Linked DNA regions of Homo sapiens. The protein of the gene in region 2 binds, or shares a complex with, the protein of the main gene of each other region. Each region holds a gene or a part of one and is shown on either strand. Other genes may lie near its edges. The genes, in order: RAB29 and LRRK2.

Region 1 (8,760 bases), on a different chromosome or scaffold from region 2:
TAAAAGCAGTCGCTTTTTTTTTTTTTTTTTGAAACAGTTTCCTGCACTCCTGTTGCCCAGGCTGGAGTGCAGTGGTGCCATCTAGGCTCACTGCAACCTCCACCTCCCAGGTTCAAGCAATTCTCCAAAAGCAGTAGCTTTTATGATAGGGTTGATGTGAGGATTAATGAGTCAGTGAATTTAAAATACTTAGAAGAATGCTTGGCACATAGTAAGGATTCACTATTTTTACTGTATCTATTTTCTGGGGATCTTGTTTTTCACCAAGGTCAGCCTTAAACCTAGAAAAAGCACCCTCCCCTGCTGTGGGAGTGTCCACCTATAGTCTGGACAATCCACCACCTTGCCAGCCCCTCCATCCACATAGAGACTGCTCCAGATCTATTCAGGGCAAAACATCTACAAAAGCTCTGCACCTATTCAGCTCATGTGTCCTCAGAGCAGCTCAATCATTCCAGCTTCAGAAAAACAATTTCTGGCTTTGCTGCCCCATTTTTTCCTCAGAGCTTTCTAGTTAAATCAAAATTTCTTCCCTTGTTCCTATCTAGCCCTCCCACTTTACCTGCAATATCCCACAGCTGAAGCCGCACTATCTCGTAGTCAGACCACTGGAGAACCTTCAGAGCAAAATCCACTGAAAATATATGTACATTATACTTTAATAAAATTTCACTGTAAAAAATTAATAGGGATAAACTCAAATCAAATAGGCAGTGAAACCCTATGGACACACAACTCCAATCCCATATGTTTAACTTTAAGCCCTCAATTCACTGAGATGAGTCCACATGCGTGTATTTAGTGTGAGATGGATGATTCATACTCACTCTCCAAAGGGGTTTCCAGCTTTTACTCTACTGTCAAGCTCATTTATTTGCTACTGTTTGTCTCCAAGACTGGGGGTGGGAGTAACTATGAAAACAATTCTCATTCTCAGGTTAAATAGTTTCTGGGAGATTTAGGGGGTTTTCTCAGGGAAGGGGTGATGGGGGAGAAGGGGGAAATGAGACAAGTGTGGTTGCTTTCGTATCTTCCACATTCAATTTCACTGTTGGTTTCTAATCAAATTGTATTATGAAAAGAACACACCCTGGGGAACTCTACATCCACCATAAGGTTGCAGGTATTATCTTGGGCAAGAATGGAATAAATGGAAAAGGTCCCAGAGGAGTCCCAAGAAGAAGACACTGTGTGGATGTTGCTGAAGAGTCCTGCTGGAATCTACCACCAAGTCTGCAGGTGCTGAGACTCCTTAAGGCTGAGTAAGTATTCCATGGGGAAAGCCTTTTGGCTAAGGAGAGAAACAGAGTAATTTCTGAGGTTTGGAAATATTATCTTTCACATCTGTGACAGGAATCAAAGCTAAGGGAAATTTAGACTAAACACTGAAAAAAAAATTAGCCAATTATATTCTTTGCTAAAGGAAAACTACAGCAATTGTTAAAAATTAACTATTAATAGCAGGCCACTTTTAACCCAAATCCGTGAAATAGGGACCCTTATATTATTTAGGAGTGGGAGGGCAGAGCGGTCAGGATAGAGTGTCTGAAACTTTGAACCTTTAATTTTGCCAGACTTAAATTTTTTGTTCCTTTGTTTTTGAGACAGGGTCTCACTCTGTTGCCCAGGCTACAGTGCAGTGAGTGGTGCGAACGGGGCTCACTGAAGCCTCGACCTCCCCAGTTCAAGCAATCCTCTCGTCTCAGTTTCCCGAGTAGCTGGGACCACGGCTACTTTCTTCTTTAATTTTTGTAGAGGTGGGGGTCTTGCCATGTTTCCCATGGCTGGTCTCGAACTCCTGGGCTCAAGCAATCCTCCCGCCTCAGCCTCCTAAAGTGCTGGGATTGCAAGTATGAACCACGGTACTGGGCCCTACTGGGGGTTCTTAAGGAGAATGTTTTAATTGCAATGTAAATGTTTGTTAATTTCTTTTTAAACTTCCATATGAACAGGAGCACACATTTTCAATTTTTCCATTGGTACGAGTTTTCCCCCCTTGAAACAAGTTCTTTTAACAGAGAGAAATAAAATTTTAAGTTACTCTCCCCCATCACCAGCTCTTCCTAGCTAAATACCTTCTAATTAACAATAAGGCATTTCTGCCTCTGAAAAAATAGTTGAGTCCAAAGGCCACACCCGGGAAAGAAATGAATGAACTCGGTGTCCCCTTCCTCCCTACCTTCTCCAGTTTGAGGAAAAAAGTGGTGGGAAGATAGGTCAGAGAAGTGGTATATTTCACATTCTTGGAAGAATTCCTTGGTTACCTTTATTTAAGCAATCAACGGACAAAAACACAGCTCATCAGCCCTCATGGGCATCTGACTGCGTAGCCAAGGGGCTCGTTCGGGGATTTTGTGTCTTCCATCCCACCCACAGCCCCACAACAAAGCTACAGTCCTTCAGACCAGTTCCGCTTCCTGCGTTCTCCCACTGAAGCCAGGTTAAACACCTTGCGGTTCCTCCCTCAACAGAGGGGCAGGACTACAGCCCCAGCCGGCACCTAACCAGGAGGCCCCACAGAGGATCTCAGCTGCTTCTGCTGATTGGAGAGATTTGCCGGACAGCTGAAAGGCTGGAGACTTAAGTTCACAGTACGCCTGCAATAAACAGCAATTGCTCATCCTCATCCTCCCTTCCCTATTTCTCATCTTCACGCCTTTGCTCTTACCTTTCTCCTGGCAGTGGGCTCAGTTTGGGAAAATCTAACGGGAAACTCAAGAGAGGCGTGTAAACCAAACACCCGGCAATTACACCATCTAGGTTCCCAGACAGTACTTCCTGACCCGAAGAAGGACCCAACAACCGACAGCAAATCCCCACCCCACTTGGGTCCCCAGCTCGAGTCCGCGGTCGGGGCCTCCTCCTCCCCCTCCCCCTCCCCACCCCCGAGACGTCTCACCTCCCACCGTGGACTTGTAGTGTTTGCTGAAGCTGTCCTGGGAATATCGCTGCACCAGCGACGTCTTGCCCACTGCGGCGTCCCCCACCACCAGCACTTTGAACAGGTGGTCGCGGCTGCCCATGGCTAGCGGGGTGTGCGTTTTAGGGAGGCGGGAAGTGTGGTCGGGGATCGGGGGTCGCTCGTTTTAACCCCTTTGGATCCGGACCCTCTTCAAACTGAAGTGAGGCATTCCCACCCACCGCCTGTCTGGGCTGCTCTGACGAGAAAGCAAAAAAGGAAACTTTGCACTCAACCTATACGCGCTTCCTCCCCGGGCGGCCGCAACCTGGGTGGGGCGCAGGGCGCGAGCTCCGAGCCCCCGGCTGTTCGCACCTTCCCCACCCCCTCCTGGCCTGACTGCCGAGAAACTGGACCAGGCGCCGCGGAACCTCACCCACCGGGACTTCCCCCGAGCGGCTCCAAGTCAGTGACTGAATCCCAGTCAGCTCCTTACACCACTGGGGCCAGATGATGGGGACCCTCCCCTTGCAGCACAAACCAAATTGTGAGGAAGGAGCAGCCGGCACCTCGATTCCCTAGACGCCCTCCCGCGCGCCTCTCTCTCCCCTTCCTCCGCAAGCGTCACGTGCAGGGTTGCCTGTGGCACTACATTTCCCAGCTTTCCTCGCGGTAAAGAGAACCAGCCGAGTGCGGAGGCTCACCGCGAAGCCTCCTGGGAAATGTAGTATATTCGTTATTTTGTTTTAAGCAAACCTACACCAAGTTTCAAGGCTTCAAACTCCCTCGACAGTTTGGAATCTTATTTTGAAACAATTCTAGGTCAGTAAAGATCCCTTAAGGGGAGATTTGTGCAACGTGATCTCACTGGCCTGAATCCATCCCCAGATAGTTTTCTCCTGTCTTTAAAGGTTTAACTGAGTTAAGATTGAAACTTATTTCATTAGTAAAAGCCCAAGCCTCATCCATCATGCTCCAAGTGAAGTCCATTTCCTATTCCTTCAAGTAGATAGACAAGCCCAGGACTTTGTGAAATGACTCATATTTTCTGTGTGAACTTGCCCAATACCAGGCAAGTTCAGGAAAACTTGACCCAAGAGACCAGTCTTTGGAAAAAAACCTATGCCAAAAATTACAGCATTTAATATCCAGCAATAACAATAAAGATGGACAGAAAACAAGAGACAGTTCTCCATTCATACTTCTACAATGCCTATTCTAGCCATACTACTCATGTATCACTTGAGCTAGAAGCTAATTGAAATACACTGGGACTCCTTCTTGATTTGTTGTGGCTGTTGTTAATAGATAATCATAAAACTAGTGTTTGGCAAATAATTTTAATTTCTCAGCCTGTAACTTTACTGACCTACCTGTCACTTGGGTAGAAGTTGGCAGGACATGAGCTCAATGGCAAGCAAAGAGAGCTCCATTTTCTATACTTTTCTAGGAATAGAGGAAGAGAACCAGCGGGGCCATGGGAAAACAGCCCAGGACCAGACACTAGGAAATCTAGGTCTCTTGATAGAGAGGCTATCACTTATGTTTTGTGGCGAAAGAACATCAGCATGGTTCACAATATATTTTGCCCAGAATGTTCGTTACCCAGGTACAGGAGGTTAGTTCAAGCTACTCATCTTTAAGGATCCAGTTTTCTCTGTTCTTATTCGTTTTGACATAGTTGACCACTCCTTGACATTTGTTTCCCTTATGCCTTCTATGACGCTGTTCTTTCTTTGTCATCCCCGTACTTCTCTGATGATTATCTTTTTCTTTCAGGTTTCTCTCCATCCCATTTCCCGCTAAGTATTTCCTAAGGCCTGATTCTTGGTCTCTGAGTCAATCATTCGATAAACTCTTTAGTGAATTGTCCTTGGTGTCAAAGATCTATCTTCACTTTATTTGTTCTTTATCTCTGATCAGTGATATTCTGTCAAGACCAGCTCTGTTGGGGAGACCCTAACCCAGTGGCGCTAGAGGAATTAAAGACACACACACAGAAATATAGAGGTGTGAAGTGGGAAATCAGGGGTCTGATTTCCTTTAGAGCTTTTAGAGCTGAGAGCCCCGAACAGAGATTTACCCACGTATTTATTAACAGCAAACCAGTCATTAGCATTGTTTCTATAGATATTAAATTAACTAAAAGTATCCCTTATGGGAAACGAAGGGATGGGCCGAATTAAAGGAATAGGTTGGGCTAGTTAACTGCAGCAGGAGCATGTCCTTAAGGCACAGATCACTCATGCTATTGTTTGTGGCTTAAGAATGCCTTTAAGCGGTTTTCCACCCTGGGCGGGCCAGGTGTTCCTTGCCCTCGTTCCTGTAAACTTACAACCTTCCAGCGTGGACGTTAGGGCCATTATGAACATGTTACAGTGCTGCAGAGATTTTGTTTATGGCCAGTTTTGGGGCCAGTTTATGGCCAGATTTTGGGGGGCCTGCTCTCAACATGTCCCTCTTCTCTGATTTGCAAATTGATAAATGCAAAGGCAGCTTTGTCACGGTGAGCTACTTCTCGCAGGAGTCAGGATACACATCTGCAGACTATACAAAGACAAACAACACAGATTAAAAGCACAATCATCATTGAAATCACAGAGCTTCCAAGTGTTTTTATCCATTTTCGGCTCCTTTAAGCACTCCAGTTCCTGGCATTAAGGTCAAGTGTGCCTCGGATGCTTTAAATATTTCTTCTTTTAATTTTAAATCCTTATGTTAAGCTCCTAGAGCGGGCCATATCATTTGAGGTTGAGGTGTCACTATACTGCCATGGTTCCAGATAATAGGAACTCTTGCTGTACTTCTTATTATATCTACCATCTGACCATTTTGTTCAGACCAGCTGAACATAGTGTGGCCGTGGCACGCAGACTGAGAGGTGCAATTCAAGCTAAACATCCCCTTAGGGGACCAATTAATAATGATTCCATAGGAATCATTGTGCAGCATCTCTGCCTGTTCTGCAATGCAATCTTCCTAAACAAGTACGTTCATTTTTTCTAACTGGGTCCAATCCTGTTTACAAATAAGTTTTTGAGGGCGGTATGCCTCAATTATAGGAGCAGATTTATTATGGTAAATACTGAGATCAGAAAGCATGTGTAACTGCGTCATAAAGTGATTGCATCCAGGCATTATTGCCAGCCAAGATTGATAAATATACCCAATAAGTATAATTGTTCTCTGTGTCAGCCCTTAATGAAGGAATACTCACGGCACTGGTGATAACCGCTATCATAGCTACCATTAACACTTTATTTGTTCTTTATCTCTGATCAGTGATATTCAGCTGCCCAAAAGGTGCCCCCACTTGGATGTCCTGCCACATCCTTCCTCTTACTACATTGCCATAAAAATAGCTCCTTTTCTCAGCTTCCCTATTTCTGTCACTGGTCTCATCATTTCTTGCCTCCATGTAGACTTCAGATTCTGAGCATTATTATTTCCTTTACACATGTCCCTTTATACCTATTTATTTGTTTGTTTGTTTATTGAGATGGAGTCTCACTCTGTTGTCCAGGCTGGAGTGCATTGGCATGATCTTGGCTCAGTGCATCCTCTGCTTCCTGGGCTCAAGTAACTCTTGTGCCTCAGCCTCCTGCGTAGCTGGGACTACAGGCGCATACCACCAAGCCTGGCTAATTTTTGTATTTTTTTTGTAGAGACAGGGTTTTACCATGTTGGCCAGGCTGGTCTTGAACTCCTGACCTCAAGTGATCTACCCGCCTCAGCCTCCCAAAGTGCTGGGATTACAGGCGTGAGCCGCCGCACCTGGTCTATACCCTTTTAAAAAAAATTCAGTTACCATGTCTGATTGATTGTTTCTTCAGTAAATGGTTTCTCCCACTCATCCTCTCTGCTTCATATTCAGTAATACTTTCCTTTTTTTTTTTTCTCCAACTTTTATTTTAGGTTCAAGGGGTACATGTGCAGGTTTGTTACACGAGTAAACTGCATGTTGCGCGAGTTTGGCTTACAGATAATTTTGTCACCCAGGTAATCAGCAAGTAACACTTTCCTAGTTCAGGCTTTCACCATCTCACACCTGGATTCCTGCAGTAACCTGTTTATTGGTCTCCCTGAATTTATTTTCTTTTTAACTCACCGTCTACAACTGGACAGGATGGTTTTCCTAAAACACCATTGTTTGTTCTTCCTTGTCTACCAACTGTCTTTCAAAAAAAAAGGCCAACCTCCCTGAAGCTGGTGTCCAAAGCTTTCTATGCACCTGCCCCGGCCTACCTAACCAATTTTATCTCACCCGACTTCAAATGGGAGTTTCCTTCTTCCAACAAGGTGAGGTTCCTTATGCTCTTTTAAAGCCCAATGTCATTTTTGATTTTCTGTTTTTGTCCAGGATGCATCACCTTTCAGAATACTCTTCAGGTTTCTTTCTACACATCTAAATCTTACTTAAATATTATTAAGAAAATCAAAAGGAAGAGAAACTATATTATTCACTAAGTGGGAGTGGATTGTCTTAAAGGTCACCGAAGGTTCTAAAATTTTAGTGTGCATAAGCATCACCTACCTGGGGTACTTGTTAAATACCCACATTTTGATTCTGTAGGGCTAGGGGGTGACCCAGGTTAATCTGCATTTTTGACAAGTACTCATGTGATTGCTACACCACATTCCACTTTGAGAAATAGTACTTTTGAGAAATGGTGCTTCAAGGCCTGACTTAAATATCTACTTATTTATAAACATTTCCCTTATTATTGCAGCCTTTATTGGTCACCTGTAGCATTTATTTTTTTATTTTAATTTTTTAATTTTTTTTTTTTTTTTGAGACAGAGTCTCGCTCTGTCACCCAGGCTGGAGTGCAGTGGTGCGATCTGGGCTCACTGCAAGCTCCGCCTCCCGGGTTCACGCCATTCTCCTGCCTCAGCCTCCCGAGTAGCTGGGACTACAGGCGCCCGCCACCACGCCCGGCTAATTTTTTTTTTTTGTATTTTTTAGTAGAGACAGGGTTTCACTGTGTTAGCCAGGATGGTCTTGATCTCCTGACCTTGTGATCCACCCGCCTCGGCCTCCCAAAGTGCTGGGATTACAGGCGTGAGCCACCACGCCCGGCCTATCCTTTTTTTTGTTTTTGAGAGGGAGTCGCTCTCTGGTCACCCAGGCTGGAGTGCAATGGTGCTATCTTGGTTCACTGCAACCTCCGCCTCCCGGGTTCAAGTGATTCTCCTGCCTCAACCTCCCAAGTAGCTGAGATTACAGGCACGTGCCACTATGCCTTGCTAAGTTCTGTATTTTTAGTAGAGACAAGGTTTCACCGTATTGGCCAGGCTGGTCTCGAACTCCTGATCTTGTCATCTGCCTGCCTTGGCCTCCCAAAGTGCTGGGATTATAAGTGTGAGCCACTGTACCTGGCCTGTAGCATTTATATTCTATTTGCACTTTGGTCACTTAACTATGTGACCAATTTGTAACTATTTAACTTATATAAGCAACCAGCGTGTCTCGAAGAAAACAGGAAGAAGTAAATTTTTCCTTCAAAATTTTGACTTTGCTCCTGATCATCTGTGAAAGGAACTACTCTTAGCTTCCAAAATCGGAAAGGTCGGGAGTTAAGATTTAAGAGGGAAGATTAGCAAATTTCTGGTACTCCCTGAAAGACACAGTTCTCAAAGTAGTAATCATTTCTTTGATGGGGATGAGAAGTGTTTTTCTTTCTCTCTTCTCTTTTTTTTTCTTTTTTCTTTTCGTTTCTTTTCTCTTTTCTTTTCCTTCTTTTCTTTCTTTCTTCTCTTTCTTTCTCTCTCTCTCTCTCTTTCTTTTTCTTTCTTTCTTTCTCTCTTTCTCTCTTTCTTTTTTTGAGACACAGTCTCGCTTTGCTGCCCAGGCTGGAGTG
Region 2 (8,588 bases):
ATATGCTATTTGATACATGTATACAATGTGTAATGTTCAAATCAGGGTAACTGGAATATCCGTCACCTCGAACATTTTTCTTTGTGTTGGCAACGTTGCAATTTCTTTCTTCTAGCTATTTTAAAATATGCAATGAATTATTAACCATAATTTCCCTGCTATACTATTAAATATTAACTTAATTGCTTGTATCTAATTATATTTTTGTACACATTAACCACCTTCTCTTTATCCCTCCCCATCCTTTCATTTCCAGTCTCTGGTAACCACCATTCTACTCTCTTCCTCCATGAGATCCACCTTTTCCGCTCCTACATATGAGTGAGATTATGCAATATTTTATTTCTGTACCTGGCTTATTTAATTTAACCTAATGACCTCCAGTCCCACCCATGCTGTTGCAAATGACAGGATTTCATTTTTTATGACTGAATAATATTCCATTGTGTATGTATACCACATTTTCTTTTATTTTTAGTTAAGTAATTAATTTAGAGACAGGGTCTCACTCTGTTGCCCAGACTGGAGAGCAGTGGTGTGATCAAAGCTCACTGCAGGCCTGCAATCCTGGGCTGAAGTAGTCCTCCTGCCTCAGCCTCCCAGGTAGCTAGGACTATAAGCATGTGCCACCATGCTCAGCTAATTTTTTTTTCTTTTTTTACTTTTTGTAGAGATGGAGTCTTGCTATGTTGCCCAGGTTAGTTTCAAACTCCTGACCTCAAGTAATCCTCCTGCCTCGGCCTCCATATTTTCTTTGTTAATCTGTTGATAGACATATAAGGTGATTCTGTATTTTAACTATTGTGAACAGGGCTGCAATAAACATGGGAGTTCAGATATATCTTTGATATACTGATGTTCTTTTTTTGGATATATACCCAGCGATGAGATTACTGGATCATATGAAAATTCTCTTTTTAGTTTTTTAAGATACCTCCATACTGTGTTTCATCATGGCTGTGCTACTTTATATTCCCATCAGCAGTGTACCACCATTCCCCTTTTTCTGCATCCTTACCAGCATTTGTTATTTTTTGTCTTTTTGATAATAGCCATTCTGCCTGTGGTGAGATAATATCTCATTATGGTTTTGATTTGCCTCTCCCTAATGATTAGTGAAGTTTAGGATTTTTTTTTCATGTACCTGTTAGCCATTTGTCTGTCTTCTTTTGAGAAATGTCTATTTGGATCTTTTGTCCATTTAAAAATAAGACTTTTTTTTTTTTTTTTTTTTTTGCTAATTGAGTTTTTTTAGTTCCTTATGTATTCTGGTTGTTAATCTTTTGTTGAATGGATATTTTGCAAATATTTTCTCCCTTTCTTTATGTTGTCTCTTCACTTTGTTAATTATTTTCTTTGTTGTGCAGAAGCTTTTTAGCTTGATATAATCCCATTTGCCTATTTTTGTTGTAATTGCCTGTGCTTTTGAGGTCCTACCCCAAAAATCATTGCACAGACCAATGTCCTGTAGCATTTCCCCAGTGTTTTCTTCTAGTAGTTGCATATTTTCAGGTCTGAGATGTAAGTCTTTAATCCATTTTGAAATGATTTGTGTATATGGTGAAAGCTGTGGATCTAGTTTCCTTCTTTTGCACAGCCAATATTTGATTCTCACTGAAATCTCACTGCCCTCCTGGAAATATTACCGGATGTTTTACTGTCATAGCGAAGTGAGAGTAAGCTGCTCACTGAGGATCAAAGAGCTTGTGACAGACCTAAGACTCAAGTCTTCTCACACCTTCAAAATCTCTTTCCATCATACAATCTACTAGCTGCTGAATTCGCAAGCTTTTTGTGCAAGCTAGTAAAAAGCAAAATGGTTTGATACAAATACTGTGGCCATGCTAGGTACAATGACATCAATTTAAATTATCATTGGTCTTAACAAGGGGATGTAGAAAGGGGTCTCCTACTGACATTTTAATACTCACTTAAAAGTAGTATTTTTCCTTCAGATTTCTTTATATTATTAGTATAATTACTGTAAGTATCCTTTACTGCTTTATATGTTGAATTAGCTGGAAGTGCCAAAAGAAAAACTCTTAATGATAAATTTAAGGTATTAAGGTAAATTTCTCCTTCATTTAATTTAATAGTAATTCTTAATTACTATTTAAAATAAAGATTAAGGTTTGTTTCTAGATGCCATTTAACATGATATTCCAGACTGCCAGTTTTATTTTCAAAGTTTGTTTCATATTTTATTAATGTTTCTTCATAAATGACAGTCTTTAGAAAATTGACGGTTAAGCTAGGTGCTTTATATTTTTCTTTTCCTGCCTATCTTTTCACTGTGCTCCTAAATTTTACATCTCTTTATTCTCAAGGGTTCAACCTTTGAAGAAGGGGAGCAAAATAAATGAAAGTGGCTAAAATTTTTTCTTTAACCCCTAGACTCTTTCCTGTTGTGCATTAATTACATGCTTGAGTTTTTAGAATAATTATAATAAAGTAAAACTACCAATTTAATTGTATTGTAACTGTGCAAGATGGGAACCTTCTCTCTTAGAGAGATAAGCTTTTAATTGAATAGATTAATGGATCAATTGTTACCTCTGCTTTGCTGCCAGAGATTCTATTTAATCACAGAAGTTCCATGTAGTGCTGGAGAGCTCAGTTGCCTGAATCTTTTTGCAAAGCGTTTACTGATACTGTTGCTTCACCAACCAAAACAAACAGGTTTTTTCCTTGAGTCAGCTTTGTAGGTACAGAGATGAGTTTGGCATCCTATGTGACTTTTTTTTTTTTTTTTTTTTTTTTTTTTACCACCAGAAGCTGTTCAGAATGTTATTTTCTTAAATAGTTCGGAAAAAAGTCTTGATGTATTCTATGAAAGCACAAAAATAGTCAGTTTCTATGACAGCTGGATTGTCAACGTCTGTTCAGCTTACGTGGAGGAGGATGTCCTACTTGAGTAGTATAGGTAGAAATAGCTATCAGAAATTGCCGCCTTTGAAAGCAATTTGAAATTATGTAAAAGGAAGTAATGACAAAATAAAGCAATTTATGTTTAATCTGGAAAAGATCCAAAAGTAATATTGTAAAGAGATCTTGAGTAATCATTTTTATCTTCCTAAAATAGCCGTTGTTTACTCCCGTAAGCGAGTAAGAAACTTGTGCCATTATTCCTTATTGGGTGCATATAGATTTCTCACCTTGTCATTCAACTCCTTGCAATATTCAACTTTACTTATGCATCCAGCCTTATCCCAAAATAGCCTCTTCCCTGTAGCAGCTTCCTTATCATGTAGCAGCCTACTCTCCTCACCGCTCATCCGTTCTTATACAATCTGGCTTAAGCTCTACCTCTTCATATTATATTCTTCTCTGAGTAATTTCAACTCACACTGAGTCTTACTTTCAGTATTTCTATTATATTGGTATTTATTACACATCACACTTAGATACTTTTCCATTAGTCTCTAGAGGGTACATATATGCACTTTCTCTTTTTTTTTTTTTTTTTGACCATGTCAAGTATAGTTCTATAGTATAATAGAATGAATTGGAGATCCTTTACATTTAGAGAGGGAGGAGTCTACAGTAGGAAGAATAGGTTAATTTTCATCTCCGGTTTGAAATCAGGACTTTCAATTTTTTTTTCAGAGGTAAAGAGCAACTTAGTCAAGTTGGCATCTTGTAAACAGACTGAGTGAAGATATACTTAAAATGCATCTATAATTTCATATTTTATTTCGAAATGTGAAAGAGCCTACTAGGGGTGTCTGTGATCTCTAGACCTTATCAATTCATTCTAGAGAAATCTGGAGGGAGCCATTGAGGAGTTCTACCTCCTGTCTATTTTATAGAGCTCTTTCTCTTTTTCTCCTATCAGATGTAGATTCAATTGCTAAAAATGCCACGTTTCTTGCCTCTATTATTCTAGCTTCATTACTTGGGGAGCAGCCATTCTGATAACTTACATTTTGCTACTAAAATCTCCAACTTCACCTAATCCTTCATTATAAGCCACTTCATTTTTTCCTATAATTAAAATTTTAAATATGTGGAGGAAATTCTGTCAGGTAGATATGACTTAAAACCTACTAAGGGCCAGGTGCAGAGGCTCACGCCTGTAATCCCAGCACTTTGAGAGGCCAAGTCAGGAGGATTGCTTGAGCCCAGGAGCTTGAGACCAGCCTGGGCAACAGAGCGAGACCCCTGTCTTCACAAAAAAAAAAAAAAAAAAATTAGCTGGGTGTGGTGGCACATACCTGTAGTCCCAGCTACTTGGGAGGCTGAAGTGGGTGGATCACCTAAGGACAGGAGTTCTAGGCTGCAGTGATCTATGATTGCACCATTGCACTCCAGCCTGGGTGACAGAGTGAGACCCTATCTCAAAAACAAAAACAAAACCAAAAAAAAAAAAAAAACAAGAAAAAAAAAGTACTAAGGATCTGGTATAGCCATTCTTGCACTTAATAATCTTGGTACAACCTCTAAAACTATTTTTTATAGTTTATTTTATTTTGCCTTATTTAGACAATTGGCATGTCTATGTTCTTCATAATTTAGAAATTATATGTATTTATATATATAAATTATATATATTATATATTATGTATAAATTAAATTATATATATATATAATATATATATATTTGAAATGGATTCTTGCTCTGTCATCCAGGCTAGAGTGCAGTGGCACAATCTTGGCTCACTGCACCCTCTGCCTCCTGGGTTCAAGCGATTCTCCTTCCTCAGCCTCCCGAGTAGCTGAGATTACAGGCGCCCATCACCATGCCTGGCTAATTTTTGTATTTTTAGTAGAGACTGGGTTTCACCATCTTGGCCACATTGGTCTCAAACTGCCGGCTGAAATGTTGTATTTTTTGTATGTCTTTCTGGTATGATTTTTGGAGAAAGGTGTATCCTAAGAATACGGCTTGCTTTTGTTTCTGGGTAAGCATTTTAGGGTATCATTTTGTTGTATAACCATTGTTTACAAGTGAGATAAGCATCTATTCCACTAAGATTGAAGAGATTCATGTTTGACTGAGTATGCTCTATTAACATTCTTTAAAACATGTGAATATATGTCTTTCTTGTTTTCAGGTGGGTTGGTCACTTCTGTGCAAATTAATAGAAGTCTGTCCAGGTACAATGCAAAGCTTAATGGGACCCCAGGATGTTGGAAATGATTGGGAAGTCCTTGGTGTTCACCAGTAAGTATGATAGATATGTAAAACAAATGGCCTTGAGTATTTATTTGTACACATGACAACCTTCCCTTGATACACTGTGTTTGCAATCCAAGGCTACTCCTGTGGAATTCTTTAAAATACAGATATTTTTCCTTGAGTCAATGATTTACATTTATAGAGAGCTTTAAACTCAGAAGTTTGATTTAGAAAGCAAACATTTAAGGTAACATGTCAGAAGTTATTATTTTAATAATATAATCATATAATTATAAAACTGGTTAAGTTGTAGATTTTTGATGAGTACTTTTGAATTCAAACCATGAAGAGATTTTGGCTTTTAATAATAGAATCGATACAAACCACTAGTTCTTAAAAAAATGGGAACTGAGAAAAGTTAGTTCTGTAAGTAGTAATTTGAAAGTTGATGTTCTACTGTCTTTAAATAGTACATTTATATATATATTCCTATATATACAGTAAGTTTAAACTATGGCTTTCAGAAAGAGTTAAGAAAGAGGAAATTAACTTTCAGCACATCTGTAGCCAAATCTTGATAGTAATTTTACCAGCTATGTTTTTGCAGTTTGCAGCATAATGGCTTCTTAGATGAGACTACTTCCTTAGCCATCATTAATTAAGAAAATATTTTCTCAAGAAGAATGTGTTTCCAGGAAAATACATTTTGGATAGCTTTGTTTCTTGACAGTTAAAAAATATCTTCTAAGCTACTGAGGAGGCTGAGGAAGGAGAATCACTTGAACCTGGGAGGCGGAGGTTGCAGTGAGCGGAGGTTGCAGTGAGCCGAGATTGCACCACTGCACTCCAGCCTGGGTGACAGAGCGACACTCTGTCTCAAAAACAAACAAACAAACAAACCTTTTGTCATTAACTTTAAATCTTTTTTATACCTAATATGACTTTTCTTTATCACAGAAAAGGAAATTGTGAATATTTTTTGGCTTCCAATGGTATATGGTTTATGAAAATTTAATTTATGAAAAATTTTCAGGTGTTTGTATTGCTGATCAGTGTCAAGTAGTGCTATAAATTTAGACAAATTAGAGCTATGTGTTTGTCCATAAGTGAACATGTCTGTGCTTATACATTTTCCCCTCTTTGACAAATGTGTTGCTCTTCTTGTTTTCAGTACATAAAGGGTGTGTTTTGGAAAGAGCATATTTACAATTAATTGGAGTTCTCGTCTTCAATCTAATCTCTGTAATTCTATGTATCAGTTCTAAAGTATACAGCATTTGATGAGGAATTACTCAAAATATACCAGTAATTAGGAATTGTAACTTTAAATGTCCCTTGGTTTGGGTGATAATTTCCAGGAAGTCCAAAGATGAGCCAGTCTATAACCTCAGGGAGTGTTTGGGAAACTCATCTAGTCATATTCCTGTACAAACCAACTGTTCAAATTAAATTACATAAAAGTTTATGTAGGAAATTTCATTCACTCACTCACTTACTCATTCACTCACTTTGTTCATCCAGTCATTCATCTTCTATTCATTGAATGTTTTTGAAGCCTGTCCTCTGGGTCAGAAACCATGCAGTTGTGAAGAAGATAGACACACTGCTGTCTCCAGTGGAGTGTATTAGATCACTCCCAGCAAAAATTGATTGTAAAACAGATTTCTCTTTTTTCAAGGCCTTTTCCCTCCAAAGACTTACCAGTACTGAAGAAAAATTTCTTCCGTGGTAATAAAGTCAGGAATTGTGGGAATGGTATAGGGAGAGGTAGGGGCAGGGTGATTAGGAGGAAGGCTGGCAGAGAATCGAAGACTGGCTTCATTCAGGTCCTCCAATTGCCAAATGGAGATTATGCAACGTTTCTTGAATACATACAAAACTCTAGATGTGGCCAGCTCAGTCTTCTTCCAATAATGTAAAGCCAAACAATGCTTTGCAGGAATAGACTAGAGATTATATTTTGGGATTAATAACATAGGGATTAAAATCTTATCTTGAACTAACTAAACATTATTGATATGCTAAATTCACTTTTTTTTTTTTTTTTTTTTTTTTTTTTTAGACAGAGTCTTTCTCTGTTGCCAGGCTGGCGTGCAGTGGCGTGATCTCGGCTCACTGTAACCTCTGTGTCCCGGGTTCAAGTGATTCTCCTGCCTCAGCCTCTCGAGTAGCTGGGACTGCAGGAGTACGCCACCACGCCCAGCTAATTTTTGTATTTTTAGTAGAGACAGGGTTTCATCATGTTGGCCAGGATGGTCTTGATCTATTGACCTCATGATCCCCCCGCCTCGGCGTCCCAAAGTGCTGAGATTACAGGCGTGAGCAACGGCCACCGGCCCACTACTTTTTAATATATCATTAATTTCTCTTTTAAAAACAGTAGCAATCAATAATTTAAATATTCAAATGAATTCTTAATTTATATACACAAACTAACATCTTTATTATATCTCTATATTTTAATATATCAACATGTCTAAGATAATTTATAAATTTACATCATATATAAAAATGGGTTTGCTCTCGATGTATATAAGGCTTCATGATATTTTGAATATGGAGTTGGGTGAAAATAGTGAATCTGAATATTTGAATTTGAATATTTATTGGAAAATAAGTAGTGCTTTTAACTTTTTAAATGAGACACATAATAGTCCCCTGTTGATTTTTTTTTATTTTTTTAACTTTATTAAAGTATAGTTGACAATTAAAAATTGTTTATATTTAAGGTATACAATTGATGATTTGACATGTGTACATTGTGAATTATTCACCACAATCAAGCTAATTAACATTCCCTGTTAGTTTTTATAAGCCTGGTTCAGGTTTGTAGAAAGAAACAAACACACATGGCCAGGCACGGTGGCTCACACCTATAATCCCAGACTTTGGGAGGCCAAGGCAGGAGGATCACTTGAACCCAGAAGTTTAGACCAGCCTAGGCAAAATAGCAAACCCTGTCTCTCCAAAAAAGAATGAAAAAATTAGCCTGGTGTGGTGGCATGTACCTGTATCCCTAGCAACTCAGGAGGCTGAGGCAGGAGGATTGCTCACTTGAGCCCAGGAGTTTGAGGTTTCAGTGAGCTATGATTGCACCATTGCATTCCAGCCTGGGTGACACAGCAAGACCCTGTCTCTAAAAGCAGGCAACAAAAACACATGAGCTTCACTACAGGGAATTAAATACAATGAGAGTAATAAAAAATAGGTGAGCAAAAAAAATGCAAATAAGCAAACTTTTGAGTATGATATTTCATTCTTATCTTGATTTCTGTTTTTAACTCCAGATTGATTCTTAAAATGCTAACAGTTCATAATGCCAGTGTAAACTTGTCAGTGATTGGACTGAAGACCTTAGATCTCCTCCTAACTTCAGGTAATATGTGTATATGTTTTTTGTGTTGATTCAAATTAAAAAAAAAGTTGATACCATTAAGTAAATGTGTGTGTGTGTGTTTTTTTTTTTTTT

What was found.
Region 1: the proteins of LRRK2 (region 2) and RAB29 are in contact, whole or in part, in a cryo-EM structure (PDB 8FO2), measured with the Homo sapiens proteins. Residues at the interface, in NP_940980.4 of Homo sapiens: Arg361, Lys362, Arg399, Met402, Leu403, Leu406, Met407, His408, Leu437, Ser438, Lys439, Gly440, His442, Leu443, Asn444, Glu447; in NP_001129134.1 of Homo sapiens: Leu7, Val42, Asp43, Phe44, Ala45, Leu46, Arg58, Gln60, Trp62, Leu76, Tyr77.

The regions. Positions count from the first base shown.
Region 1 is NC_000001.11:205,771,934-205,780,693, forward strand, and holds the start of RAB29 (ras-related protein Rab-7L1), read right to left. Parts: upstream 3,550-8,760; 5' UTR 3,340-3,549; exon of another isoform or gene 3,154-3,339; 5' UTR 3,024-3,153; coding exon 2,900-3,023; intron 635-2,899; coding exon 563-634; intron 1-562. UniProt on the Homo sapiens protein: The small GTPases Rab are key regulators in vesicle trafficking. Essential for maintaining the integrity of the endosome-trans-Golgi network structure.
Region 2 is NC_000012.12:40,227,220-40,235,807, forward strand, and holds part of LRRK2 (leucine-rich repeat serine/threonine-protein kinase 2), read left to right. Parts: intron 1-5,054; coding exon 5,055-5,164; intron 5,165-8,406; coding exon 8,407-8,495; intron 8,496-8,588. UniProt on the Homo sapiens protein: Serine/threonine-protein kinase which phosphorylates a broad range of proteins involved in multiple processes such as neuronal plasticity, innate immunity, autophagy, and vesicle trafficking.